Linked DNA regions of Homo sapiens: region 2 is linked to region 1. Evidence: fine-mapped expression QTL. A gene starts in region 1. The other region holds a variant in brackets. All regions are shown on one strand. Distances are from middle to middle. Region 1 holds the start of LDLRAP1 (low density lipoprotein receptor adaptor protein 1). Region 2 overlaps LDLRAP1 (low density lipoprotein receptor adaptor protein 1).

Region 1 (15,210 bases):
GCTACTTGGGAGGCTGAGACTGGACAAAAATTAGCAAGGTGTGGTGGTACGCACCTGTAGTCCCAGCTACTTGGGAGGCTAAGGCTGGAGAATCACTTTAACTGGGGAGGTGGAGGTGAGCTGAGATCATACCACTGCACCCAGCCTGGGCAACAGAGCAAGACCCTGTCTCAAAAAAAAAAAAAACAAAAAAACTAAACAAAAAAACAAAAGAAAAGAAAAAAGAAGGTACACGGATAATTTTTTTTCTTTCTTCTGAGGTTTTTCTCTTGTCACTGTGTTTTTTTTATTGGCTATTTATGTGGTTCTAAGTAAGGAAAAATTAAAAATTTAAATTATTAGCATGAATTTTACCATTCATCTTTGTATTATGCAATGTCAGTTTACAATGCAAATATCAGAGCCTTTAACTTGTGTGTGGAATCACAGAAATTACTCAATTTTTCTTTCATGGCTCATCCCTGAGGGTGCCTCAAGCCGGCCAGAAGAGACAGACATAAGTCAGATGCAGGAAGATTGGAAGGAGGAAGAGGCCATCCCCTCAGCACAGGTGAGAAAGTGCTTCTGGGCACAGGAAGACTCATAAAGACCCTCATAGGTGCCCAGGGGCGCCACCCCACAGTGGAGGACACGCCCACTCTCTGGAGCCTGACAGTGGTCAAATTGTCCACGTGAACCCTACTGTGAGCACTCAACTCTCCCAGGCTCCCCTCTAGACAGACACTGGACTGATGCAAGGTACGCCGGGTGTGAGTAGGGTGTGTTGAAGCCAAGCCGGGCCTCTCCTTCCCACGGGTCCACTTCCCCAACCCTTGGCAGATGGGCCACCCCCAAGGGTCTTTAAACCTCCATGCCAGGATGTGCTGAGTCCCTGGATCAGTGTCTTTCCCCCGCTGAGATGTGGCCTCTAGCCAGCTACCCACCAGATGTGCCATGGTGCTGCCAGCCCAGGGTGGGGAGAGCTGCTGCCATGCCCTGCCCCAGATGACGAAGGGTGTGTGCACCTGATTCCAAACCATCCCCCCTCCCCCATGCCTGGGCCCAGGGTCCTGCCTGGCACAGGAGACAGCACAGCTGCAGAGTGGAGCTAGGCATAGGAGGCGAACAGGTGCTAACAGAAGGGGAGCAGCAGCGGAGCTGGCACACACTTAAGCTGAGGCTCTAAAGACTCTAGGCATGCTCCACTGTCCCATCAGACTTCATGTACAAAACACAAATTCAAAGATGAAATTATGAAGAATTGGCTGGGTGCGATGGCTCACGCCTGTAATCTCAACACTTTGGGAGGCCGAGGCAGGCAGATCACCTGAGGCCAGGAGTTCATGACCAGCCTGTCCAACATGGTGAGACCCTGTCTCTACTAAAAACACAAAAATTACCTGGGTGTGATGGTGCGTGCCTGTAGTCCCAACTACTGGAGAGGCTGAGGCAAGAGAATTGCTTGAACCCAGGAGGTGGAGGTTGCAGTGAGCTGAGATCGCGCCACTGCACTCCAGCCTGGGCGACAGAGTGAGACTCTGTCTCAAAAAAAAAAAAAAAAAAAAAAAAGAAGTTATGAAGAATTGCAGGACAGTAATGGCAGATGCCAAGTGGGGACCCTTCTGAGCCTGGGAGATAAAGGGGTCATAGGAAAGGAGGCTAGAGGAGGTTGTGCACAAGCTTTCTTTGATCCCCATTGTGACCAGGTTTAACTTGATTCGCTTGCAACAGCTGTGGGGACAGGGCTATTGCAAGTTGGGCCCTGTGGCCTGCATGGCTAGCACCCTCTTGCCCAGGCCCCCAAGAACCACTGATGGATGGATCTGCCAGGCCCCTTAACCAGCCTCTGTTCTTCCTTCTGCGGGAGGAGACAGATGAACAATTTCACAGCTTTTATCTCAGAAAACAACGGGGCTGGAGGCCTAGGGGAGCGAGATGAGCGAAGGCCTCTGTGTGGGGCATGACTGACCCTATGGCCCTTCCCTGGGTGGCCCTCAATGTGCTGGCTGGGCAGAGGGCATGGGAGGCAGCCGGTCCCTCAACCAGGACCCAAGCCTGCTCTGGTTCGTCTTATGCTCGGCATAGCCACACCCGGAGGGGTGCGGGAGCCAGGTGGCTCAAATGAGCATGTTGTTCAATATTTAGCAGTTTTGCAAGATGGTTATTAAACTTCTGGTAACTTGAAATTGGCCGTGGTGGGTGTATTTGCATCATGGAAATTGGCAAACAGTACAAATCAGAAATTGGGTTAATCAGCACGCCACCGACAAGGTAGCAAGCTGCCAGCACCATGGGGCAGGGAGCACCCAGAGACCCACACTCAACGCATGGCTCTGTGCGAGCCCTGGGCTGGGCACAGGAAACATCTAGGCAAATCAGACACTCTCAAGTACGCCTCCTCTCAAGTAGCAACCAGCCTAGTAGGGAGACAGAAAAGCAATGTGGAAAGTTATGAACCAAAGGGATACCATTGACAGCAGCTGTCGTATCTGAGGTCTCTACCGTGTGCCATGGTGCTGGAAACTTTTCACGTATCACCTCTAGACTCCACTGCACAGACGGGAAAATGAGGCTCGGCAGTATTAAGTCACCTGCCCAGGATTGTGCAGCTGGCAAAGTCAGGTCTGAAGCCCACATTGTTCTGACTGCTGAGCCTGTAGCCTTAACCATAGCGATGTCCTGTCCCCACACATGCTCCATGTGAAGTATGGAGAAGGGAGCAACCCCACCTGGGGTGAGTGCTGGAGTGGCATTGGGAAAGGCTTCCCAGGATTGGTGACATTTAGTCTGGGCTTTGAAGGATGAATAGGAGTTTGCCAGTTGGAGGGCAAACTGGAGAAAGGCATTCCAGGTAGAAGGAACAGCAAAGGCATGGAGAAGTAGGAGGACACAGGAAGTTTAGGGGAAGGGGTTACAGGGTAGTATCACAAGGCTATGTGGCTGGGGAGGACGAGGGATGGGAAGGTGGGTGGGGACTTCAGTGAGAAGGGCCTCGAAAGCCAGGCTAAGGGGTTTGGTCTTTATCTCACAGGCTTTGGAGAAGTTGAAGGTTCCTGGAAATCAAACCCTGGAACTATATAGATATTATGGCAAGATTGCCACCAATGTCTGTTTTATGAAGTCCACTAAGTAATGCTTCTCGAAGCATCAGTGGAGCAGGACCATTTTTAAAAGAATTTCTCTTCTGTCACAGACCAATGCTTTTGTAAAATACAAGGAAAACGAATTACTAGAAAAATACAATAAAATGACGAAAAACACAAGCCTAATTTTAAAAATGAGATTCAACAGACATAAAATTACTCTATCAAATTGCTCTAAAAGTTCTCAACCCTTAATATCTACACTCTCTTTGATAGCATTGGGCTTGTCCAGAGGTCTCTTTATAGGCCCAGATTCAGAACACATGCAGGTTGTCCTAGTAAGAGCTAAGTGCTCTCAGGCGAGTCCCATTTTAGAGCTGAGGAACCTGCTGCATGGAGACGGTAGGTAGGTGGGCTGCCCACGATCACACAGCTGCTGAGTGGGGCTTGGGACTCAAACCTGAGGCTGTCTGCCTTGTACTCAACCAGTCTGGAAGGTGCAGCAGACCCCTTAGCAGAGTCCTCTTTGGCCTGGCCCCTTCACTTTGTCCCTCCTCCTACCTCCTTTCAGCACAAGGTCAAGATCCCTGTAGACAGAAAAAGGGAAATAGAGCCAACTTAAGAAGGGAACTTCCTTGCCCAAAGTGCCACTGCAAGAGGGCGGCAGAGGTGGCCAGCCCCCAGGTCTCCTGACACCAGCCTGTCCTCAGTCACACCACTCTGCCTGCCTCCATGTCTATGCAGTGACCTCCAGGCCAGACAGTGCCAAGGAGGACGAGGGAAGCGGGGGCAGGAGGCAGGGGACTCATCAATTGCTGGCAATTACACGGTGCTTTGTCATTCTTAATTAGCTCAGTGGCTCCACAGCCTAGAGATCTCCCTGTGGATGCTAGGCTGGGGGAGGAGACAGCTGCTGGTCCCACCACGGAGGGCTATTTGGAGGGGTAGGTACCGAGGAGCTCCCCTCAGCAGCACCTCCCCAGCCCCATTAGGGGCTGCTGTTTCTCATCCTTCCTCACCCACTTGCCAGACACTATAAGAACCAGAGACAGAAATTAAGCCATTGGATGTGTATGGGGCATCTCCTTTGTGCCAGGCACTGGTCAGCAGCTCTAGGAGCCCCTGGAATGAATGCTGATTTCCAGCCCCCATGCTTGAGGCACGCCCAGCTGCTGGAAGAGGCAAACAGGCTCACCATAATCATGATAATGATAACCAGAGTTACCCTTTAAAAAAAAAGTTTATCTTCATTTTTATTTCTTTGAGACAGTGTCTCTGTCGCCCAGGCTGGAGTTCAGTGGCGCAGTCTCAGCTCACTGCAACCTCTGCCTCCTGGGCTCAAGCGATCCTCCCACCTCAGCCTCCTGAGAAGCTGGGACCACAGATGTGTGCCACCATACCCGGCTAATTTTTTAAATTTTGTTTTATAGAGACAAGGTTTTGCTTTGTTGCCCAGATTGGTCTTGAACTCCTGAGCTCAAGCGATGATCCACCCACCTCAGCCTCCCAAAGTGCTGGGATTACAGGCATGAGCCACCGTGCCCAACCCTGTTACCATTTACTGAGCGCTCGCCACACGCCTGGCACTAGACTAAGCATTTTCCATATATTATCCCACAGAAGGCTTACAAAGCCCTCTAAGGTAGGTATTATGCCCACTATACAGATGAGGAAACTGAGGCTCAGAGATAGCTAAGGTTACATATACATACATGGAGGATTTGTTTTAGAGCCAAGGTATGTGGAGCTCCAAGGTCTAACAGTTGTTTAGGAGTGTGTGTGTGTTGGGGAGAGAATACTGGTGTGTGGGTGGCTGTGATCATGGGTGTTAGGGAGGAGGCCAAGTAGCTGTTCAGGGCAAAGGTAGAGAGGCCAGGAGAGTTGAAGCAGTCTGGCTGGATGTTCCTGGAAGAAGCAGCTGCATGGGAAGGGTCTGAGGGAGGACGGGTTCAGAGGCAACTGGTTGGGGTGGTCAGGTCAGCGGGCACAGCAGGCAGGAAAGGCCCTGCATTTGGGGTAAAAGGTCAGAGCCCTGGGGCTTGTGACTCACCGGTAAGTAACCCAGGCTCCCTCTGACTCCCTAGGAGAGTACTGTCTCCGACCTGGGCCCCAGCTAGGATGGGGCAACCCTACCCTGTCCATTGAAGGTGTGATGTTAGCCTGCCTGCCCCTCAGACTGGGCTATGCTGGTTCCAACCCGGAGAGAGAGCTCCCTTCCCTGGGGACCAGCCAAGAATTATGATATTCATAGGTACTCCAGCCATGTCATCTTCATTGTTCACCCAGTTAGGAAAGCAATTTTAGTTTTATTAAAATATGCGGCTGGGCATGGTGGCTCATGCTTGTAATCCCAGCACTTTTGCAAGGCCGAGGCAGGCGGATCACGAGGTCAGGAGTTCGAGACCAGCCTGATCAACATGGTCAAACCCCTGTCTCTACTGAAAATACAAAAATTAGCTGGACGTGGTGGTGGGTGCCTGTAATCCTAGCTACTCAGGAGGCTGAGGCAGGAGAATCACTTGAACCTGGGAGGCGGAGGTTGCAGTGAGCCGAGATGGCACCACTGCACTCCAGCCTGGGCAACAGAGCTAGACTCCAACTCAAAAAAAAAAAAAAGATGGAGCTAGACTCCATCTCAAAAAAAAAAAAGTGTATATATATATATATATATATATGCAACATATACATCACTTACTATATGCCAGGCAGAATTCTAAACATGTCACAAACATTAACTTTTGTTAATGTCCCAGCCTGTAGGTGGGACTACAGGCGCCTGCTACCACACCCAGCTAATTTTTGTATTTCAGTAGAGAAGGTGTTTCACTATGTTGGCCAGGCTGGTTTCAAACTCCTGGCCTCAGGTGATCCACCCACCTGGGCCTCCCAAAGTGTTGGGATTACAGGCGTGAGCCTCGGCACCCAGCCTACATTAACTTTTAATCCTCATGATGACTCCATGAGGTGTAATCCCCATTATTCTAGTCTATTCAGGCTGCTCTAATAAAAATACCAAAGGCCGGCTGCCTTATAAACAACAAAAATGTATTTCTCACAGTTGCAGATGCTGGGAAGTTCAAGTTCAAGGTGTTGGCATATTCGGTCTGGCGAGGGCCGGCTTCCTGGTTCATAGATGGCTGTCTTGTCACTGTAAGAGTGAACAGGGCCAGGAATCTCTCTGGGGTCTTCTTTATGCTCATCCCATTCATGAGGGCTCTGCTTTCATGAAAGGATTACCTCCCAATGGCCCCATCTGCTGATACCTTGAAGGTTAGGATTTTGACATACGAATTTTGATAGGACAGAAACATTCAGTCCATTGCACCAATTTTACATTTTAGAGGAAACTGAGGCCTGTGGAATTTAAATAATTTGCCTAAGGCCATGCAGTAAAGAAATAGGGAAGCCTGGATCCCGGGATGCAGCATCAGTGTGCTTCACTACTGCGCTCTGGTGTCTTCCACTAATAACTCCCATTTTACAGATGAAGAAACAGAGGAAGGGATTGGCTCAGGGAAGTAGGGAGGACAGACCACCTGAGGAAACCAGGGACTCTCATCCCAGCTTAGGCTTTTGTCTTGGTCCCACTGCAAGCCCAAATGATGGCTGGAGAGAGGCTGACAGCCCTGTCAACTCCTTGGCATCCACTATCTCGCTGGGGTCCTGTGGGTCCACTGAGGAAGAAATTAGTAAGATTGTAGCTGATGCCATTTGACTAAAGACAAAAGCCATTTATTCTTATAGGTAGCTCCCCGACCCCGTTTATTGTTCTTTTTCTGATTACTAAAGGAACATGATCACTGCAGAAATGTTTACAAAGTTAGAGCAGATAAACAGAAAACCAAACAAAAGAGAAAAGAAAAATCCCCTTTCAAGCCCCTCTTGAATCTCAGGACTTATTTTTTTCTTTTCTTTTCTTTTCTTTTTTTGAGACGGAGATTCGCTCTTGTCGCCCAGGCTGGAGTGCAGTGGCGTGATCTCGGCTCACTGCAACCTCTGCCTCCTGGGTTCAAGCGATTCTCCTGCCTCAGCCTCCCGAGTAGCTGGGATCACAGGCATGCGCCACCACGCCCGGCTAATTTTGTATTTTTAGTGGAGACGGGGTTTCTCCACGTTGGTCAGGCTGGTCTCAAATTCCCGACCTCAGGTGATCCGCCTCAGTCTCCCAAAGTGCTGGGATTACAGGCACGAGCCACTGCACGCGGCCCTACTTCTTTGCCTCCTCCTCGTTGTTATAAGCATCCAAGGTGGGAGGCAGGAGACCTGGCATCTGTTCCTGGCTTGCTGTGTAACCTTGCGTAAGTCCCTGTCCCTCTCTGGGCCTTAGGCTCCTCATCTGTGAAATGAGGGTTTGGCCACAGTGACCTCAGAGGAGGCCACTCGCAGCTCTGACCTTCTGTTTCTGCTTCTGTTTCTGGGATTGGCAGAAGGGGCACTAGCAGGCTGCCCCTCTGCAGGGGACACATGGCTGACAGCTCGCAGCAAGCCATCTCCGGGAAACTGCAAAGGCTGGTAAACAGTTCTCGTTGCACACGCAGCGTTCCCAGGCCTTCCTGCTTATCAGGCCCATATGGTGCCCCCTGCCAGCCGGACACCACCAGCTGCCCTTGGCCAGTCTGCCCTGGGTGATCACTTTTCCTCCCTGCTTCAGAATGCTCTCTCTACTATTCCAGAATCTAGCTGGCTTGGGATAAGTGAGCTGGGGGCACTCAGCCCTGTGGACCCATCTACCTATTGCCACAGCCCTTTTGCAGAAGGCAGCCTGGTTTGGTGAAAAGCTGGAGAAAGGGAGAAGGGGAGGAAAGGAGGGAGGAAGGACAGGAACACTGACTGTGTTCCAACTCCATTTGGACCCCTTACTAGGCATTTGGGATTCAGAAATGAATCAGAAAAACTTCCTGCTTTTGGAGGGTACAAAGTCTAATGGAGATGAGAGGAGTATAAACAGGCAGCAGTAGTGCTTGCAATCCTGAAAGTTCAGGACTGTGGGCGCCCACAAAGAGAAACTTAATCCATGGGTGGTAGTCAGGGAAGCCTTCCTGGAGGAGGCAACTTTAAAGGTGGGTTCTCAAGAACAGGATTCAGCCATTCCAACTCCTGTTATTTAGTCCTTAAGGACAGCCCTGTGAAATAGATATAGTTGTCCCTTTTACAGATGAGGCTCAGAAGGGTGAGTTCACAACCACCAGAAGGACAGCTGGGTTCTAACCCCTGGCATTATACTCTACCCCATTGCCTATGGGCCTGAGTCTGATCCCAGTCTCTGACTCTCGGAGACTATCAGTGAATGCTTCCCTCCCTGACCTAGGGCTGTCATCTGTAAAGTGGGTCCACCTAAGCAGTGTTGCTGGGGAAGCCAAGGACAGACTGGCTAACAAAGCACTTGGTTTATAAACAGGGGAATGTCAGTGAGGCCGCCCTATCCAGCTGGGGACAGCACAGCACTATCTTTCTCCCGACACAGAGAGGACTGCTGGCTTCTGAGCCAGGAGTAATTACAGAGGTTGAAGTTGGCCTTGCCTGAGGCACCCCCTTCTAAAAGAAGCCAGGCTGTGGCTTGGATGTGTGTGTCCTCCCTCTGGCTCCTTTTGGCACAGTTTGAAAGGAAGGCATGGCATCCTAGAGAGTTAGAACAAATCCTTCCAATCCTGGAGTTAGAACATCTGTGCCTGAGCAATTCTGGGGTTCAGACTGCCCTCCGAATGCTCCTAGGAAGCAGCTTGGGGTCAGGGTCAAGGTCATGCAGATTCTTGACCCTGGCAGGTTGGAAGGATCACTAGAGATAGCATTGACTCTCATTCACAGATAAACAAGACTCAGAGAGGGGAAGTACTTGCCTGAGGTCACACAGCAAGTCAGTGTCAGGGGCACGTTCCAGATCATACCATCTGTGAGGCTACCTGGGAAGTTGCGGGGGCATGGGGTGGCCCAGCATGCTCAGGTGGTGCCAGGGAGCAGCCTGGGAGCTACGAGGATGAGTAAAGTGCCTGGCTGGACTTGCTAAAGGCAAATTTTTATATACCGACCCTGCGCCTAACAAGGGTCTATACTGCAAGCTTGTCCAACCTGTGGCCCACTGGCCATGTGAGGTCCAGGACGGCTTTGAATGGAGCCCAACACAAATTGGTAAAGGTTCTTAAAACATTATGAGATTTTTTTGGGCAGGGTGTGGTGGCTCACAGCCATCCCAGCACTTTGGGAGGCTGAGGCGGGCAGATCACTTGAGGTCAGGAGTTCGAGACCAGCCTGGCCAACATGGTAAAACTCCATCTCTATTAATAATACAAAAATTAGCCAGGCATGGTGGTGCATGCCTGTAATCCCAGCTACTCGGGAGGCTGAGGCATGAGAATAGCTTGAACCCGGGAGGTAGAGGTTGCAGTGACCCGAGATCGCACCACTGCACTCCAACCTGGGCAACAGAGTGAAACTCTGTCTCAGGGGAAAAAAAACAATACAGAAAAACAAAAAACATGAGTGTGTGTGTATATATATATATTTCAGCTCATCAGCTGTCGTTAGTGTTAGTGTATTTCATGTGTGGCCCAAGACACTTCTTCTTCCAATGTGGCCTAAGGAAGCCAAAAGTTTGGATATCCCTGGCTTACAGCCTCCACTATTTCCTAAGTCTCCCACTGCCCTGGACATCGCATTGCTTTTGTCCCTGAACAAGATCTTTCACCACTGGAGGAGCCCTCAGTCTCCCCATCTGTAAAATGGTCACTGGAAATCCTAGGCCGCTGCTCTCAGGCCCTCAGGCCCCTACGGGGTGGGGATTGGGGAAAAGGAGGAAAGCGGGGGCGTCTAGGGCTTGCGATTTGCTATCTTCTGGCGCCTTCGGGCGGCCTCGGAAACTCTTGGTGCCTGGACCTGGAGCCTGGACAGGGACCGGGCGGGGCGAGACCGGCCGTCGGGGGCGCGGCCCGTCTGGGGGCGGGGCCTGTCCTCTCTCGCCCCGCCCCGTCGGACGCCGCGGCGGAGCTGGCGCTGGGAGGGGAGGAGCGCGCAGCCCGCGCGCCGCAGGGCCGGGCGGAAAGTTTTTCCTGACGGAGTTTTGGCTGCGGCAGCGGCGGCGGCGGCCGGAGCGGGCCATGGACGCGCTCAAGTCGGCGGGGCGGGCGCTGATCCGGAGCCCCAGCTTGGCCAAGCAGAGCTGGGGGGGCGGTGGCCGGCACCGCAGTGAGTGTGCGCGCGTCAGCCGGGCCGGGCCGGGATCGGGCAGAGGCGCGCGGGGCCTCCGCGGGCGCCCGGAGTGCGGCCAAGTTGGGCAGAGGCGGGGCCTCACCGGCGCTCCGGTCCCGGCGTGGCCCTTTCCCGGCCCTGCGGGGCAGGGGGTCGGCCGGGGTCAAGTTGTGCACCTACTCGCCGGCCGCTCGATGCCGCTGCGAGGAGGGGCAGCGCTGAGGAAGGAGCCCGAGCTCGGGGTCCTCAGGTGCAGCCGGCATGGGGTGGGGTGCAGGTTGGGAGAAGAGGCCCCCGCCACCCGCGGCACCTCCCGCCCTGCTGTCCTGGCCAGCTAGGGGGAGGCAGGCGCTCGTCGTCGGTGCCTAGGGGAGGAGGAGAGGGCGCAGGGGCTTGGGAAGACGCCCCCGTCCCGCACCCCTGCGCCCCAGCCAGCAGCTGCGGCGGTCAGGAGCCCACTGGCCCGTTCTCCCGCCCCCTGCCCGACCCACCGGGCCAACTTTTGACTCCGGGTGCCCAGACACCCATCCAGGTGTGAGCCCGGGGTCGCAGGTACGTACTTGAAATTGGGAACGAGGCCCCGCCTGGGGTGCCTCGGGAGAGCCCCACATCAGGCGATCTAGACCCTTACGTCCCTTCCTCTAGCCGGGTCCAGGTGGCAAGCCTGGCGTCCCGACTATTTTTGAAACCTGTTTTCTCTCGCACCTTTCCCCTCGGGCTTCCAGAGTCCCTTGGGTGCCCAGGCAAACGACAGACTCGCCGCCACCTCTCCCTGGGGCGTCTGGGAGGCTGGGAGGGGCCTCCCCCCCTTTCTCTCCCCCAGTCTCTGATTACGCTCAGGGAACTTGTCACCTGGCACCTTCCCCTGAAGCCAGAAGACCCAGCCTAGCGCAGGTCTCGTTGTTTGGGAGGGAGAAGAGAGTGGCTTGCCTGGGGTCACACACACCTTCCTGCTGGTTTTGGAGCCAGAGCCCAGGACTGCTGCACACTCCCACCTCCCTGCCACCTACTTCGGGCCACAGCTTCTCCCCTCATCAGGAAACAACTGACAGTACAGCACCCCCTCATCCCATCCCCTCTTGGCCTTACAGGGCTCTGCCAGGGGAGCCCGAGCTCCCTGGTCCAAGGAGTGCCAGCGTGTCTGGGCCTAGAGGGCCCGCCTCCCTCCTCCTCTGGCCCCACTCTGTTGTTCAGCTGTGGCCGCCTCCCAGCTGAGACTGGCATTGGCATTGGGAATGTGGGGTGGTGCCTGCTGGTGGGGGGTGGGGTCAGAGACCCATTAGGGCTGGGCCACTAGGCCAGGGGATGTACCGTTTATCACACTGATTGCATCCCAAAATAGACCCTTTAAAAACTGGCAAGATTTGACCAGGACTTCTGAGATGGCCATCTGTTCCAGTGGGAGAATCCTGCGGGTTTTCTCCAGGAATGAGGGAGGGAGGGTGGTGGGGCAGCCCCCAGGGAAGTGGTTTTGAAGGAAGGGGGGCTGGCAAGGGAAGGGAGGCTAGAAAGAAATATCTCTGAATCTGGGGACGTGGAAGAGGTAGCCGCTTTGGATGTGGAAGAGAATTTCTCTTGCCATCTTCAATCTTGAGCAAGTCACTTGTCCTTTCTGATCCTCGGTTTCCTCATCTGCAACATGGGGATAAAAACTCTTACCTGGCAGGAGTATCAAGGAGATTATTGGTAATAATGCTCCCTCCTAACTGGTGGCTTTCTTCTCCCCTGCTCCTCTTCCCCCTGCCTATCCTTGGGACGCTGCCAGCATGATTAGTACTGTGGTGAGATGGGTTTTGGGGGCCCCGAGCCTGTCTGCACCTTTGGAGGAAAGGAGAGGAGCACCTCTCCCCCTCCTCCAGGCCCTGGTAAGCCCAAAGTGCTGTCCTGGAGCCTCTGGATCTGAAGGAGGGCAGGCCGAGCCCCACCTGTCCCTCGTGATGAAGTCTCAATTTCCTCACCTGTAAATTGCAAATAACAGTAGTACCTGCCTCCAGCTGTTTGTGGGGATCAAGTGGAATTGCGTTTGCCTGGCATAGAGGAGGAGTTTGGTAAATGGTAACTGCTGCTTTTGTAACTGTTTTACAACCTGTTTTTGCTTCCATTCTCTCATTGACTCCTGTGAGGTGACAGAGCAGACCCATTTTAGAGACAAAGGAACTGAGACTCTGAGCATTGGAGTCATTGGCTCCAGACACAGAGCATCTAAGAGGCAGAGCTCCACATTCCTAGCGCAGGGGTCTTACCAGTGTGCTTGGTGAACTCTGCCATGGGAGGAGCTGGGAGCAGGCCCCACCTACCCCACGCTGGGCTGGCAGCCTCTGACAGCAGTGGCCACAGGTTAGAGCAGGGGCCATGGGGTATGTGGGGGTGGGGGTGCTAGGGTCACCTTGCTCAGGGTTGTGACCCAGCCTGGCCTTGGACCTGGTCCCTGTGGTTGAGTTTTGAGGCCAAACTGAAGCCAGTGGAGTTAAAGTTAGACTCGAACCCTGCTCTCAGTTGTGACCTGCTCCTCCTCCTCAAGGTCCTCACTAGGATTAGCATGAGCATTGCTTATTTGTGGAGAAAGAAGCCCAGAGAAGGGCAGCACCTTGCCTGAGGTCACACAGCAAAGCCAGCACCCCAGGCTTCTTTCCACCCAGCTTCATGCCTGCAGTGGATTCCTGGTTGTCCTGACCTTGAAAGAGGGCTCTCTTCCTCTCCCACACATGGCTTTTCCTATCCCCTGGGGAGACATCAATATTTTATCTCAGTCCCTGGCCAGGCATTTTCCTTCCAGCTGCCTGGAAGAGGGGCTCACCTTGGCCCCTCAGCACTCTTTCCAGAGGTACTGGGATCATTCAGGCCCTCCGGTTATTTTGTGGGTTGTGCTTACCCAGAGAGAAGGGGTGAAGAAATAGGAGGTGCAGGTTCCAGTAAAGCTAGTTCATGGTGGAAGGCAAGGGAGGGAGGATATAATCATATTTATAATATTTATAATAAAGGATATTGCAAATGAATGTGGCCCAACACAAATTCATAAACTTTCTTATGGGTTTTTTTGTGATTTTTTTTTAAGCTCATCAGCTATCATTAGTATTAGTATATTTTATGTGTGGCCCAAGACAATTCTTCCAGTGTGGCCCAGGGAAGCCAAAAGATTGGACATCTGTGGCTTACAGTCTGGTGCACCACAACAAGGGTGTAGATCAGTGGTGTGGTTGTGGACATTGGTAGCAGGACAAATAAAAATAAAGCAGGGTGAGGAAATGATGGGACAGCTTTGTAAGATAGGATGGTGTCTTCATTTGGGTTCCTCTAGAGACAAGGATTGGAGTGCAAGTCATTTATTTGGGACAAGATGGCAGGAAATATTGTTAGGACAAGTGAGAAGGGAGGGGAGTCCACAAAGTGGGCATTATAAAGCAAATTACCAGCAGGGCGCGGTGGCTCATGCCTGTAATCCCAGCACTTTGGGAGACCAAGGTGGGCAGATCACCTGAGGTCAAGAGTTCGAGACCAGCCTGGCCAACATGATGAAACCCCATCTCTACTTAAAATATAAAAATTAGCTGGGTGGGGTGGTGCAGGCCTGTAATCCCAGCTACTTGGGAGGCTGAGGCAGGAGAATCGCTTGAACTTGGGAGGCAGAGGTTGCAGTGAGCCGGGATCACGCCACTGCACTCCAGCCTGGGGGACACAGTGAGACTTTGTCTCAAATAATAAATAAATAAATAAATAAATAAATAAATAAATAAATAAAGCAAATTACCACCAGGGACTCCTGGAGCTTAACCCCGCTGTGGGAACTGTGGGAGGCAGTGTAGAACGTGCTCTTCAGAGCCGTTCCACTGGAGGGGCAGTTCCCGGAAGCCCGGTGGAGAGGACTCCTGGGGTCGGGAGATCTTCATTCCCCAGTCTGCGCCAGCCTCAGCATCTCCAGCAGGCAGAGTGGCAGGTACTGGCAGTCAGCACAACATGGAAATGGTGTGCAGGGAGGATAAGGGCGGCCACTGACAGCACCAGGGAAGGTCCCTCTGAGAAGGTGACTCGGTACACACCGGTGAATCCCAGGAGGGAGGAGTCTGGGAACAGTGTTCCAGCTAGAGGGAACAGCAAGTGCAGGGAATGTTGAACTGGAGGCTAGGACTCTGCTTCTCCCGGGTCTGGGGGCTGTGTGAGGGGCATGTGGCTTGAAGGAGTCAGAGGTCACCCACTGCCCACTGAGGGTCAGATACTCTTTTTGAGCAGCCCTGCAGGGCTCTGCCTGACCCCAGCAAGGGGCTTGGGCTGCAGGAGGCAGGTATGGACTGAAGTCCCAGTGCTGTCAATTATGAGCCATGGTCAAACTCCTCTGAGCTTCTTTATCTGTGAAATGGGAACACTGATCTATCCTGGACTCTTCTCTCAATATGAGAATGGTCATGGACACGTTAAATCTCTTTGCATTTGACCACTGTAATGACAGTAGCTCACACTTGTGATACTTGGTATGTACCAGACAAGCTTCTAAGCTCACCTCGGGTGTGAACTCAGTTCATCCTCAAGACAACCCCATGGATGGATACTCTTTTTTTTTTTTTTTTTTTTTTTTTTTTTTAAGAGGGAGTCTCCTTCTGTTGCCCAGGCTGGAGTGCAGCAGTGGGATCTTGGCTCAGTGCAACCTCCACCTCCTTGGTTTAAGTGATTCTCCTGCCTCAGCCTCCCAAGTAGCTGGGATTACAGGCGCCTGCCACCACACACAGCTAATTTTTTTGTATTTTTAGTAGAGACAGTGTTTCACCATGTTGGCCAGGCTGTTCTGAACTCCTGACCTCAAGTGATCCACCTGCTTTGGCCACCCAGAGTGCTGGGATTACAGACATGAGCTACCACGCCTGGCTGAGGTGGATACTCCTATTGTCCCTGTTATTTATTTATTTATTTGAGACAAGGTCTCACTCTATTGCCCAGGCTGGAATGCAGTGATATGATCATAGCTTACTGCAGC
Region 2 (15,210 bases), 34 kb after region 1:
GACCAAAGACGATACAGCTTGGCACTTTAAAGCATTAACAGCAGGTGTGACCCTGAGGGCTCCTCCATGGTGCTGCATTGAGTCCAGCTTTCCTTCTGCCCTTCCTCCAGGAGAAGGGGCCCAAGGTCCCCGTGGATGGTCTCCACCTGTGCTTGGAACCAGTGTAACTGGCTGCTCCCTGCTCCCAGGGACTGACACGGGGATCATCTCTGTGACCGCCCTCCGTCGGGCCCCTGCCTGCCTTCTCCCCTCCACGCAAGGCTGTGCTCTTCCTCTGGTTTCTGTGTGTCCGTTTGAGTGTCTGCGCCCCGCCTCCCCATACTTCCTGGGATGATGTGTGAAACCTGACACCTAGATTTATTTGGAAATATTCTATGACCACTTTACAGATGAGGAAACAGGCCTCAAGCGTGGAGGGGTAGAGTGAAGAGTAGAACCCAGGTCTGATGCCAAAGCTGCTTTCTTCTCTGCCTCCTCCTCACGCAACTCACACCTCCTTTTCTTCTAGCTTTGTTGTCCTCCCAGGAACCAAAAAACCCCAGCTATTTTCTGACCAAAATGTGTTTCATAACAAACCATCTGGTGCCTTTCCACACAGAACTGGCAGGAGCCTCGTGTCCTGCTAGCTGTCTCTCTTGTTGATTTCCGTGAAAATGCAAGTGTTTGAAGTCTGCTCATTCCGAGGGTGAAACAAAATCCAACCCTGTCAGAATCATGCTGTTCTCTTTGCTGACACTGTGACCCTGGGTCGGGACAGACCAGCAGCAATCTGTCTTTAGAATCGCTTTCCTTCCTCCCCTTTTGCCCCCGTGGGGCTCCCGGCATCCTGAAAGCCAGCAAAGCCTCCAGCATCTTTTCCATCCTGAGGTGCCTCCCAGTGGCCTGGCTTGTCGGAGCAAGTTTCATCAGCCCTAGGGAAAACACGGCCCTCCTGGGAACCTCCTTACCTGGAGTAACCGGACACCTTAGACGGAGGTGCCTGAGGGTGGGGTGGGATTTGCAGGGTCATTATCAGAACATGAGGATAACTTCCTTGCCCCTGCTCTGTAGCCACCTCCTTGGCACCGGCCTCTATTTGTCATAAGGCGGCGTGGGCGAGGCCTGACACAGGCCAGCCTTGGCACGAGGGGGGCCAGGGGTTCTGAGAAGCGCTGCCCTGTGAGAGCCACGCTGGCCTTCGTCTCCATCTCTGGTTGACGGGCTGTCCGTGTGCCTCCTGTGTGTCTGCAGACAAGTCTTGCTGTGCTTTATTTGTGAAACTTTAATGAGGAAAAAACAAATAATAAATGTTCTCGTTTTGAAACTCAAGCAACGCTCATCAGGTGGAGTAGACTGGCGGCAGCGTCCGGCGGCTCCTGCCCTTTGGGGATGGCAGCAGCAGTGACCACAGGCTGGGTGGGGCCGCGTGCCCAGGGGCAGCACTGAGTGGGGGTGATGGTCTTAGGTTCCTGGGGTTGAAGGCCCAGTGGGGCCCCCTTTTCACCCAGCAGCTGGGTGTGTGTGTGATGAGGTCACCTCTGGATGACTCATGGAGGCTACACCAGGGATCTGGTGCATCGGCTGAAGCGTCTGAGAGCCCCGGCGGGGGACTGTGGCCAGGCTGTGAGTCCCCTGCAGTGTGCATGAGGTTGTGTACGTGTCCACGTGGGCGTTTTCCACAGAGAGGATGTCCATTATTTCCATCACTTTTTGGATCCGCAACACTTTATCATTCCACAGACTTGCTCCGGGCTGAACGTGGACTGGGCCTGGGTCTCAGTACTGGGGACAGGGGTCCAGGCGTGGCCCAGATGAACTCAGGATGTGTGGTTTGGGTGTGTTGGGGGATGGTGGGAAGTATTTCAGTGTCTTGAGAGACTCAGGGTCTAGCCCTAGCTCTGCCACTTGGAGGCTGTGACACTTGATCAGTCACCTCTTGAGCCTTGATTTTCCCGTCTGTGAAAATGGTGCAATGACCTCCCCGCTTTTTACCACCCTGGGTTTTGTGTGACTCAGTGGTGACCATCATCACATTGTTGGTAGAACACTTGTGCATTCAGGTTATCTCAGAACCAAAGGCAACTGGAACTCAATATGTCTAAAAATGGTAAAGTAAAATAGTTAGCAACCAGTGTTAACTGAGCTCTTACTATGTGCCGGGTGTTGTGCTGAGCTCTGCACCATATTGCAACGGTTGTGCTGAGCGCAGATGGCAGATGGCATTAGCTCCCGTTACTGCTGAGGACACTGGGCTGGGAGAGGAAGGCAGCTGTGCTTCAAGTGCTGGGCGGGGCCACAGCTGAGCCGCCAACCTGTGTGGCCCTTACCCCGCCATGTCCTGGCTTCCCAGGAGCCCAGTCTGGCCATATGCTGCCCGAGACCACCTGTTGACCTGTGCGGTGACCCTCACAGAAAGGCCACTCTCTTCAGGTTCTTTCAGCCACTCTCCGGAGATTCCCCAGGCCTCTGCCCCTCAGCTGTGGCTTGTGGGGGTCCACTTGGACATGTATCTCTTTATCCCTTTGAAACTGGTATTTTAAGCGTCCAGAACCCAGAGGCAGAGCCCTCATATCAGCATCAGGCTGACTCCCTGTGAATTCTCAGTGGTTCATGGATGACTAAGAAATCCTCCCCTTTCTTCTTTCCCTCATAATCTGAAAAGACACCCAACAAGTTTATCTTTCGGTTTAAATTTGGCCAATGTCTTTAGTCTCCGGATGTCTCGGATTATGAATCCTGAGCGCCAGCCGTCTGCTCTTTCATGCATAAGGGATGAAGCCAGGGAGAACAAAGTCGCCTTTCAGATTTGACGTGACTTTCAGCTTCACTGGGTGGATGTTGGGGTCTGCTCTCCCAGGAAGAGATCCCATCCCATGTACATCTGGGGACTTTTCAACAAGCCTGGCTAGGGAATAGGGGCAGATTCACATCTGGGGGGCTGGCTTGGGGCCTGGTCTTCCTCCGGCCATTCCCAGGTGCTCATCAGAGGAGGTGCCCGTTTGTATATTAAGAAGTAACCCGGCCGGGCGCAGTGGCTCACACCTGTAATCCCAGCACTTTGGGAGGCCGAGGCAGGCGGATCACGAGGTCAGGAGATCGAGACCATCCTGGCTAACACGGTGAAACCCCGTCTCTACTAAAAATACAAAAAATTAGCCAGGCGTGGTGGCGGGCGCCTGTAGTCCCAGCTACTTGGGAGGCTGAGGCAGGAGAATGGCATGAACCCAGGAGGTGGAGCTTGCAGTGAGCCGAGATCGGGCCACTACACTCCAGCCTGGGCGACAGAATGAGACTCCTTCTCAAAATAAAAATAAAAATAAAGTAACCCTTGGGCCTGTTAGGTCTTTTGCACCTAACACTGGTGATACTAGTCCTTGCAACCTCACATGCTACCAGGTAGGTGGTCCTAGTCCCATTTTCCTGATGAGGCAGCTGAGGGTGAAGGAGGATCAACAAGTTGACCAAAGTCTCACATCCACTCGGGGATCTGGGATTTGAACCCTGCTCTCTGACCCCAGCGCTCCGGATTTCCACTGCACAGTGCCTCTCCGTGCAGATCAAGGCAAACCCCAACCGACCTGGTGTGCCCTGCTCTGCCTCGCCAGCAGCCCCAGCTACCACGGAAGACACTGGAAGCTGCTGGCCAGTGGGTGTCTCCACAGGCAGAGGCTGACTTCCTAGCTAGACACCAGAGCAGATCCCACCTCTTCCCCAGTGGCTGCCCTTTGGGGCCACTTCTCTGGACATGCCTAGTTTAGAACTCCACAGGGGTATGTCTCATTGCATTGAGACCCTGCTTTGTCCCCAGTGGCACTGCTCAGCCTGCCAGTGGGGCCCACAGTGAGCATTGGTGCCCCTCAGAGAAGGAAGCCTTCCTCTGGGAGGTGAATGCCAGCCTCGGAAGGGCAGGAAGGAGGGTGCACATCTTGAACACCAGCAGCATCCACACGTACCAGCTAGTTTAAGCTGCTGCACGGCCCCTGTGCTTGCACGTATTGTTAGCCCATTTTAGAGATGATGATACCAAGGCCTGTGGCGGTTACATGATCAGCCAGCCTCACACAGCTATTAGGAGGCAGGCCTGGGACTCAGAGCCAGTGTGTTCCCCACTGTGCTGGGTGGCCCTGCCTCTGCAGGTCACTTGGGACATTGGCAAATCAGGATGACCTTGCTTGCTTAGGAACTTCTGAACCCAGCCCAGAGTAACCTTAGCCAAGTGTCCAGCACAGAGGTACTGGATCAGATGGTGCGTTTGTGGCCAGGACAGATGTGGGCTGTGTCATGAATCCTTGTTGCCAGACAGCAATTCTGACTGCACCTGCTGAGCCCCAGCACGGCCTGTCTCAGGGTGACTGAGGCACAGCTGCTCTTGACCCCCTCGCAGTCCAGGGGTTATAGTTCATGGTGCCCTGGAAAGTCCCCGGGCATGAGCTGGGCTTGCAGTAGGCCAGCGGGACATTGGAAGTCAGAGCTGAGGTATGGCAGCTGGGGAAGCCAGGTCAGGCTCTTAGAAGAGGGGCATATTCCTGCTGGGCATCAAAGGAAGGGTAGAATGGTTGGCGACTGCATGTGCTAGCCTGGGAGCTCCCTGAGGACATGCCTGTCTGATTTGCCCCATGGCCTCAGTGCCCAGCCTAGCACCTGGCACAGAGTGGCCATCAGTGAGTCAGTTCATCAGGAGGGGAGAACAGCCTGGCTCCCATGAGAGCTGTGAGAAAGGGCAGCCCTGGCTCAGCAGGCAGCGCTGGAGTCCCTGCAGCCTGGGAGTCCACTTTGCCGGCTGTCAGACCCTTCCTGTGACAGCTCCCCAGTGTGCACTGGGTGCACTGGGCTTAGGCACTCTGGGTCTCCGTCACACACAGCCGATGGCATGGCATGCCCAGCCTGGTTTGGTAAAATGTTGTGTGGTCCACCCTCTGCCCCAACCAAGATCTTGGTTTTCATGCTGTCTTCAAAGTGAGATTCTAGAATGTTAATGCTGGGAGAGCCCCTGATGGTTCCCCAGCCCACCCACTGAGCTTATAATGGGGAGTTGAGAC[C/T]TGCAGAGGGCACAGGACTTGCCCGGGACTCACAGGCAGTTAAGAGAGCTGGGATCTGAGCTGTATTTTCCACCGACTCCATGCCCAGTCCTCCATCAACCTGGAGTAAAGGAGAGAGAAGTCCCTCCCACTCTTGCTAGAAGGGGCCCATGTGCTTGCAGGGAACTGGATGTGATGTTGGTAAGAAGAGGCTGGAGAAAGGACCTTGGTGGATTCTTGAGCATGTAATGAGCACCAGCTCATCATCCGTCTCTCCACTGTCCCCCTCAAGGACGCTGAAGTCTCATCTGCAGCTCAGGCTGCTGGCCAGACACCTAGAAGAGGGGGCATGGAGCTGCAGTTCCGAGTGCAGCCTCTGGGGCCACAGCCGTCAGGACTGGCTTTCAATCCCAGACGGCCGATTTTTAGCCGCAGAAACAACTTAGTAGCCTGTATCTCAGTCTCCTCACCTGTTAAATAGGATAAAGGTGCAGTCCAAACAGGGGCTGCTTTGCGGGGCGGGGGGAGGTCAGATGGGGGTGGGGAAGACCAGTTTCTCCCCAGGGGTAAGGCCCACCCAGGGTAGCCAAGGTGGGGAGGAGACAAGTTGTGTCTTACCAGCTCCCCTGATGCACCCAGGTGCACACTCAGGCCCCGCCACGTTGAGACCACCACATTATGCCCTCAGGAAAAACTCAACAAACTCTACTGTCTAGTGAGGAAAGCGTTGCAGTCTAGCTGTTTCCAGTAGGAAGGGATTTAGTGAAGAGCACCAGATCACAAAAGCCCTGGCAGGGCGAGGGTGCAGGTGGTCCCTGCAGGGGCTCAGGGATCTGGCGGCTGCTGCTCCTGTAGGTCCCGGTGGCTGCATCCCGGGGCAGAGCTGGCCGGAAGCTGCTGGCAAGGGAAGTTGGGAAGAGGTGGTTTGCAGGCATCAGCCCTTGCGGCTCAGGAGGGCACAGGGAAGGGAAGGGAAATGGTGCTGAGATGCAGCAGACCCCCTGGCACCCCACCACCCCAACACTGTTGGGGGGCAGGGAGGGTAAAAGGAGCTGAGGGAGGTTAGCCCGGAGAAAACCTGGCTGCCACACCTATGTCGGGAGCTATGCCGAGGCTTTGCACACGTTACGTAATCCTTAGGACAGCCATGTGAGGCCATGAACTGACCTGATCGAGATGTGAAAAGCTAGGACAGCACCCCGGGGCTATTTCACACAGGCGGGGCCTGCTCCTGCCTCTCCCTGAGCCAGGCTCATTCATCCAATGCCCAGTGATTGAGTGCCCACCACATGCCAGGATGCATGCCAGGCGTCTGGAACATGGCAGCAAACAAAACAGCAGAAATCCCCATCCTCATGGAGCTGACGCTCCCCCAAATATGTATAAATATTTGTAAATACGTAAAAATAGGTGTGGTGTAAGCACTCCAAAGGAAAAAGGGCGGTGGGGGGAAGGGGAGTGGCCTGGCCGGCAGCGCTGCTGCACCTGGGGTGGTCAGAGTTGGACAGAGTGCTGGAGGAGGTAGGGAGGCCCCAGAGAAAGGGCACCTGAGAGGGCAAAGAGCAAGCGCAAAGCCCCAGGATTGCAGTTTGGAATGTGCCAAGGGCAGGAGGAAGTCTGAGGCTGGAGAGGAGGGAGGAAGGAGGTGGACTGGGAAATGGGCTCAGAGCAGGTGCAGGCCTGGACCACAGGGCGGTGGCAAGGCTCAGACCTGCTGTGCAGGGCTCAGTGTGGGGTCTCGAGGACACGAAGGCTGCACAGCCAGGGGCAATGCAGAGACTGAGGCTCTAGGATACTGAGGCTGTCATCCAGGGTCAAGCCCAAGAGAGAGCAACCTCCGGGCTTGCAAGCGGGCAGATGGAAGGTTGAAAAGGCAACCCCATGTCCTCCTGCTCTGTTGTCTGAGCGGGGGGCTTCCAGATTTGTTGAAGAAAAGGATGTGTGCATGGCCAGCTGCCTGGGTTTGGTGGTGGTCCCAAATCTGTGTGTCGGGAGCCCTGTGGGTGTCTGTGGGCCTCTGGCAGTAGCCTGAGTCAGAGATTGGTGTATCCCCGTGTGATGTGGAGGGCTGGTGTCTCTTGGTCCCTGCCAGCCGAGCAAGAGGCTGATGCAGCGAGTGTTCTGGGCATGCTATATCATTTCTCTGGGTGTGCATGAGTGAGCCTGTGTTGGCTCCGTGGGCCTGTATGTGCCAGGAGCGTGTAGACCTGAAGGTCTGTACATGAGTCAAGGGTGAGAGGCCTGTGTGTTTCCTTGTGCGTCTGTGGGTTCCTGCTTGTCCGTAGTGGGCAGCAGTGAGGGGTGTCTTTGACTTTGGCCTGTCATTGTCTGTTTCATGCTCACTTGACATTCCACAGCTCAGCTGTAGTTCTTGGAACGAATGGAAACAGACAGCACCCAGGACCCAGTAGGACTGGCCTGTGCTTCTTGGATACTTGGGTTCAGGGTCTCCTCCCCAGCGGTCTCTAACAGCTGAGGTAGGGACGACTCACCGTCCCGGTCCCCAAATGCAGTGCTTTAAACTCAGAGACCCTTTCTTCGGGCCGCAAGGCTGGACCAGGGCTCTCACTACCCGGGTGGGAAGACTGTATGATGTTTGGGCCTTGCCAGCCCCAAGGAAGAGTCAGATCTCTAAACCTGGGGGCCTCCTGGGAAAGCCAGGACTCCAGCACTGTGGAAAGAGCATGGAGGTAGAAGTCAGAAGGACCTGGGTTCAAATCCCACTTTTGCCCAGGCATAGGGGCTCATGCCTGTAATCCAAGCACTTTGGAAGGCTGAGGCAGGTGAATCACTAGAGTCCGGAAATTTGAGACCAGCATGAGCAACCTGGAGAAACCCTGTCTCTACTAAAAAAAAAAAAAAAAAAAAAACCAGCTGTGCATGGTGGCATGCATCTGTAGTCCCAGCTACTCAGGAGACTGAGGTGGGAAGATCACTTGAGCCTGGAAAGTCAAGGCTGTAGTGAGCTGTGATTGCACCACTGTACTCCAGCCTCGGCCACAGAATGAGACCCTGTCTTACAAAAACAAACAAACAAACAAACAAAAATCTCACTTTGTCATTTCCTAGTTCAAAAACCTTAGTCAAATGGCTGCTCCGTTTCCTTATCTGTAGAGGCGGGACCGGCGTCTTGGGCCTACTGTGGAGATTAAATGAGCACTGAGTATGTGCCCAGCCCTGGGCTAAGAGCTTTACACAAACGACCCCATGGGCTTCTCACAATAACTCTCTGGAATGGGTACAGGCCCCATTTTGCAGAAGAGGAAACTGAGGCCCAGAGAGATGGCATGACTTGCCCATGGTCACTCAGCTGGGAACTAGTAGAGCCAGGATTTGAACCAGGCAGTCTGACTTCAAAAGCAGCAGCATGAGGCTGGGTGTGGTGGCTCACGCCTGTAATCCCAGCACTTCGGGAGGCCAAGGTGAGCGGATCAGTTGAGGTCAGGAGTTTGAGACCAGCCTGGCCAACATGGTGAAACCCCATCTCTATTAAAAAAAAAAAAAAAATTAGCCGGGCATGGTGGCATGTGCCTGTAATCCCAGCTACTCGGGAGGCCGAAGCAGGAAGATCACTTGAATTCGGGAGGCAGAGGTTGCAGTGAGCCAAGATCGTGCCACTGCACTCCAGCCTGGGCAACAGAGTGAGACTCCTCAAAAAAAACAAAAGTAGGCCAGACGTGGTGGCTCACGCCTGTAATTCCAGCACTTTGGGAGGTGAAAGCAGGTGGATCGCTTGAGGTCGGGAGTTCAAGACCAGCCTAACCAACATGGAGAAACCCCATTTCTACTAAAAATACAAAATAAGCCGGGTGTGGTGGCACATGCCTGTAATCGCAGCTACTGGGGAGGCTGGGGCAGGAGAATCACTTGAAACCAGAAGGCAGAGGTTGCAGTGAGCCGAGACCGTGCCACTGCGCTCTAGCCTGGTCAACAAGAGTGAAACTCCATCTCAAAAAAACAAAAAACAAAATAAAACAAAATAAAAACAAAAGTAGCAGTATGAGACGGTGAAAGGAAAGCAGAGCGCCTGGCTTTGGGTGCCCGGCCAGTGGTGGCTGTTACTACTGAGGCTCAGAGAGATGAAGCAACTTGCCACAGGCCACACAGCCAGAAAGGAACGGGGCCAAGATTCAAGGCCAATCCTAACCCAACACACCATCCACTTTATCTTTCACAGAGGCTCTCTCCCACCCCATCCGGCCTGCCCTTCAGTGGAAACTGAGATGGGGCCCAGATTTGGGGTGGGACTTGGCTAAGGTCACACAGAAGGAGGCTGCCCCTCCTGATGTGGAGGTGGCAGCGTGGTGCCATCAGGCAGAGGCACTAGGAGTGGCCTGAGACACAGACCCAAGGAGGAGCCAGCGGTGGGGTTCAGGCCTGTACCTGCTGTCTCTAAGAGCAGAGGAGCTTCTGCCCGGTGCAGGGAGCCTGGGGCGGCTCTCCATGGCGATGTTCCTGCGAGCGTGGCAGTCGGTCCTAGCCCCACTTAGTCACCCCAGGCAGCAGAGACCCTGTGCCATCCCCGCATTCACCTCCTGAGAAAGATCGGGAGGAAGCATGTCCTGAACGCTGCTTTATTGCAATAAATTTGTGGAATCAGCTCATTACATTTAATTAGAATTATTTAATTAGAATCTTAATAAAAGAGTAGAGCAGGAAGGAGGCTGATGAACGGAGCTGAGGAGAGCCTTGCTGAGTGTGAGGAGCAGACCCAGCTGGGAGGTGGAGTGGGGGAGGGGCTGCCAGGATGCGAGCCTGGATGGCTAGGCAGAGGGGACGTGCCAGGACCACCAGGACCTGGGCTGGGCTTTCCCTGACCTGTTCCTTACCAGGTGGCCCTGTGGGCAGGTCCTGGGCTGGTTTCCTGCCCTCAAGGAACTCGAGGTTCATGCAGGGAACAGACGAGGAGCCAGACAGTTACCACGCCCAGTGCAGGAGGCAGAGTCACATGCCAGCCAGAGATGAGCGTCGAGCCTGGTGTGCGGTTAGGAAGGCTTTCTACAGCAGGGAGGCCTGCGGTGAGACCTCACTGTGTTGAAGTTAGACGAGGAGGGGAAGGGCTCCAAGCAGGTGTGAGGGAAGGCGGAGCATTTGAGGCACCTGGCGGGGACAAGACAGGGTGCATAGCAGAGGCCTGGCGCCGGGTGGCAGGCTCAGGTCCCGGCATCACCGTGAGTTGGCTCTGGCAAGTGACCTGGGCAGGTTATGCCACCCTCGGAGCCTCATCTTCCCCATCTGTAAATGGGGGTGATAGTGGGGCTCTTGTGTGGATGAGAGGAGCTGCAGAGAGCACTTGGAACAGTGCCTGGCCCACGTCAGTGCGTGTGCACCAGCTATTGGGACTGTTGTTAGGATTGTCGCAGTGGAGGTCTCCAGCAGGTCATCAGTTACACAGGTCGGGAGCTCAGGGGGCATCTGGGCTGGGGACGTAGCTCTGTCATCAGTGAAGCGGCAGGTGTGGGTGAGCCCCCCACCTCCATTTGCTCTTTCCTCATTCCCTGAAAAAGACAGTTTTGTTCAGAGATCTCACCCCAACAGGGCTCTGGCTCTTCAGGGAACACTGGGAGAGTTATTTCCTCTCTCTCTCTCTCTGTCTCTCTCTCCTCAGCACACAAAGAAGCGGGTGACCGTTGACTAAAGACAAAAATCAAGCTTTTAAAGCATTAAAATTAGTTTTATACAGAAGTCTTGCTGATGACTATAGACAGAGGCCTACGGCCCTCAAGCAGCCCTCCAGAGAGGGTTTGTCAGACAACTCCGGCACGGCATTTGAGCCCACTGCTGATATGCAGCTGGTGGAGGTTCGGTAGTGCAAAATCACATTGAAATTTGGGTGCAGGAGTCCATCTGGTGATAGATTACAGAGGCATCATCACTAACCCCGTTAGACATCATTACCTTATGTGTAGGAAAAGGCAAGGACTAGGATCGTTTGTCTTTTTTTTTTTCCTTAAGACAAGGTCTCACTCTGTCGCCCAGGCTGGAGTGCAGTGCAGTGGTGTGATCATGGCTCACTGCAGCCTCAACCTCCCCGGCCCAAGCGACCCTTCCACCTCAGCCTGTTGAATAGCTGGGACGACAGGCACACATGCCACTGCACCTGGCTAATTTATATATTTTTTGTAGAGATGAGGTTTCACCATGTTGCCCAGGCTGGTCTCAGACTCCTGAGACTCAATCAATCCATCCACCTTGGCCTCCCAAAGTGCTGGGATTACAGGTGTGAGCCACTGTGCCTGGTGTGGGGCCATTTATCTTTTAAAGAATATAGTGACTCAGGTGAGAGACGTGAGGGTTTTGTCTTTAAAGCATCTTTCTGGAGAGCTGTACGTTGTCACAGAATCAGGGGCTTGTGAAATTATGCTGGCATGCAGAAATGAGAAACATGGCTTCTTAAATTTGTTACTTTGTCTTACGTGACCCATGCTACCCCTTCAGAGGACCAGATCTGGGATGAAGCTAACAGTATGCAGTATGCCACCTCTCCATGTGTTGTTTAAAGCCTTGACTTGTAGCGCTTGTCGATTTCCTAGTATAAATATGGCCACCATGGCCAATGTCAGGCTACCAACATGACATCACTTAACCTGGAGTTAAGATGCACACAGTCTGTTCTTGCAAGGCAGAAAGACCCAGCTCCAGCACCCCACTCGATGAGGCCAGCCCTGAGAACAGCAGAGCTGGGAGTGAAAAGCACCTGCACACAGATCTGCACCAGGATCCACCTCCACGTGCGCAGCTTTCTGTTACTTGAGGCCAAATGCGTCCCACACCCTGCAGGGCTGCAGGGCAAGAAGAGAAGAAAACCCAGGAGCAACCCAGAGGAACTGATAGGATTTAGGCAGCAGGCAGAGGAAGAGGAGGCGGCGAGCTCAGCTGCCGCTGTCACGTGGTGATGCTAAGGGTCAGATTTTACATTTGGTTTTTCACAGACTTAATCCTGCTGCCATCAAAGATAAGAGAATTGTTTTCAGCACAGTTATAGAAAGTTCCTAGGCTCCAGTCCATGCCTTGAGCCAAGAATGTAGGGATTTAAGCTTGTTATTCTTTTTTCCTTGAATCGCCCAGTGCCACAGAAGCAGCTACCCCATCTCTGAAATCTTCGTGCCATTCATGTGTTCAATAGCAGTGTCGACTCAGACCCTCGAAGCTCTGCCTTCAATGGCACTTTTTTCCCAGATGGCCACAGGCCATAATTTAATTAATTAATATAACTTAATTAGCTGTTTCACCACTACATTACCACAGCTGCTAGATTCTCATCCCTGAACGCTAACTGGATTTTCCCTTCCTTCAGCTCTGACTAGACCAGATCATCATTTCCCCAAGGGTATGGAGCTCGAAACCCACCCCCTCCAACCAATTTCCAAACCCGCCAGGTTTCTGAGTTGAAAACAATGGAAACTGACCCTCGCTAATTTAAGCAGAAAGGAACTTATTGGAAAGACACCAAGGAGCTCAGGCAATCGGCTGGAGAAGTGGGCTCAGAGAGAGAACAGCTGTCGAGGGAGGCTGGCAGTCAGGACACAGGCAGGGTGTCCCTACAGAAGATGTCTGCTTCTGTCTGTTCTGTCTGTTCTCCGCAGATTCAGGGTAGGCTCCTGGTGGATGGAGTCGGTGTCATGCCTGCTCCTAGCTGACTAGGGTGAACATCAGCTTCTGCATGGGAAGACAGAGCTGTCTCCTGTAAGGTTCACTAGGCTCGAGGCCGGGCACAGTGGCTCCTGCCTGTAATCCCAGCACTCTGGGAGGCTAAGGAGCACCACTGCACTCCAGCCTGGGTAACAGAATGTCTCTAAAACAAAAAAATTAAATTAAAAAGGGGGTTTGAATGCTGAGTGAGAAAAAAACAAAACAAAACCAAAAGCTAGAAATTATTCACCTTGGCTAGACACTGTGCTAACATTTTGGCTTCATTATCTCAATTTAATCTTCACAATTATTATTATTTTTGAGACAGGGTCTCACATTGCCCAGGCTGAAGTGCGGTGGCACAATCACAGCTCATTGCAGCCTTGACGTTTCTGGGATCAGGTGATCCTCCCTCCTCAGCCCCCCAAGTAGCTGGGACCACAAGTGTGAGCCACCATACCTGGCTAACTTTTTAATTTTTTTTTGTAGAGATGGAGCCTCACTACATTGCCCGGGCTGGTCTCGAACTCTTGGTCTCAAGCAGTCCTCCTGCCTTGGCCTTCCAAAGTGCTGGATTACAGGTGTGAGCCACTGCACCTGGCCCACAATTATCTTTCAAGAGGTGTTGCTTTTATCAACCCCATTTTATAGATGGGGACCAGGCTCTGAGTTTCTTCATCAGTAGTAACCCCAGGCTTTGGGGTACTGTGAGAACCCGGCAGGACACCATGAATCCCGGAAGGCTCAGAACCAGGCTCTGGAGGAGTTTCCCTAAATTGAGGCCAGCCTTAGTCTGTTGGCCTTAGCAAAAGCAGGAAGGGCCTGTCTAGACTGAGTACTTCCTAATTCTAGATGTTACTGCCATTGGCCTGCTTGGGGGCCGGTCCTGGACCAAGAGGGTGCCGTGCTGGGCTGGAGAGCTTCTCACCAAAAGCAAATGGGGTGTGAGGAACATGTGTTCTCTGCCGGGCCTCAGCACATGGGCATTCTGTCGTGATGCTTGCTGTAGCCAGCAGCCTGGGGCGGGGGCACTGCTGAGTAAACTAGGAGGGCAGCTGAATTCTGAGAAGCAGAGAGGTAGGTATGGGCCCCTGGCCTCTTGAGCCAGGGAGAGGAGAGGGTTTCTGAAAAAGAGAGATACCAAACAGGGCCCAAGCACTGACACAGGAGACTCCTGTGATGGTTCAGGTCTCCCCCATCAGACCAGGAGTTGCTGAATCCGGGGTGGTCTGTTTCCCTCTTCAGGCTGGAAGCTCTGAAGGGCAGAACTCTCGCTCCTCTGACACATCGGGAGCTCCTGTGTGCAGGGCCCTGTCTCCCACCTTGGGCTGAGGCTTCTAACGGCAGGGCGTCTCTTCCCTCCAACTAGGGCACCTGAAGGGCTAAGTGTTCCAAGACAGCAGTGTCAGCAAAGGCTGCGCAGATTTGAGGAGTGGGACCGGCAGAGCTGGATGAAACCTGACTATGCTGAAGGGGAAATGGAGACCCCGGGAGGGGCAGGGACCTGCTGAGTGCCTCCCCCAGGCAGTAGCTGACCTGGACCGCATCCCGGTACTCCTGCTGAGGTAGGAGGATTTGGGGTAAAGAGACAAAGTGTGGCCTTAGGAATACAGCCCCCAGAGCCAGGCAGGAGGGGGCAGCCCCGTAGGGCTCAGGTTCAAGCATGAGGCTGCCAATACTGCCCCTTGGAAGCGCCTCTGTTGTTCTGTCCTGGATGTTTGAGTCCTTGGCCAGCTTCCTGGGCAACGGCCTCATCCCGCTGAGATGGACAGATGTGCACAGCTGGGGGAGGGGCTTGGTGAAATCCAGCCCCACCCAGCGCAGGCCTGGGCTTCCCAGGGGTGGAACTTATCTGGGTTCTGGTCCTGATCTCTGCCTTGGCCCTGTTGTGCAGCCCTGGGCAGTGCCATGGCTTCCCCTTGGGCCTCAGTTTTCTTGTCTCTCAAATAAGGGAAGCTCTTCATTCTTTCATCAGACATTGACTGAGTTGGTACGTCCTTGGCCCACTGACTCCAATATTTGGGGATGCATTATCTGGTTCTAAGATACTTCCCCCGCTCTATTTTAAAATTTATTTCAAAAAATTATGGTAGAATGGTCTGGGCGTGGTGGCTCACGCCTGTAATCCCAGCACTTTGGGAGGCCAAGGCGGGCAGATCACTAGATATGGAGATCGAGACCATCCTGGCGAACACGGTGAAACCCCGTCTCTACTAAAAATACAAAACTTAGCTGGGCATGGTGGCATGCACCTGTAGTCCCAGCTACTCAGGAGGCTGAGGCAGGAGAATCGCTTGAACCTGGGAGGTGGAGGTTGCAGTGATCCGAGATCGTGCCACTGCACTCCAGCCTGGCGACAGAGCGAGACCCCATCTCAAAAAAAAAAAAAAAATTACCATTTTGACTTTTTAAAGTATACAGTTCAATGGCATTACATACACTGACATTGTTGTACAGCCTTCCCCACTGTCTATCTCCAGAACTTTTTCATCACCTTAGACTTGAATCCCCATCCTTTTAAAAATAACAGCTTTATTGTGATATAATTCACATATCATACAACTCATTTAAAGTATACAAT

Evidence for each region. PIP is the estimated chance that this variant, and not a neighbour inherited with it, causes the effect.
Region 2: its variant is fine-mapped to the expression of LDLRAP1 in whole blood (TOPMed, PIP above 0.99).

What each region holds. Positions count from the first base shown.
Region 1 is chr1:25,533,546-25,548,755 of GRCh38, forward strand. It overlaps LDLRAP1 (low density lipoprotein receptor adaptor protein 1), which reads left to right and starts at 10,061. Exons shown (of 9, transcript NM_015627.3): 1 at 10,061-10,241. The coding sequence starts at 10,154. RefSeq lists an enhancer at 9,731-9,790 and silencers at 9,891-10,350, 10,381-10,560.
Region 2 is chr1:25,567,579-25,582,788 of GRCh38, forward strand. It overlaps LDLRAP1 (low density lipoprotein receptor adaptor protein 1), which reads left to right. Exons shown (of 9, transcript NM_015627.3): 9 at 1-1,308. Among named protein-coding and RNA genes, the nearest start is that of LDLRAP1, 32 kb to the left of the region's middle. RefSeq lists enhancers at 1-661, 662-1,385, 6,399-7,266, 8,960-9,881, 9,882-10,803 and 1 more. The variant C/T (reference allele first, on the strand shown) is at 5,019.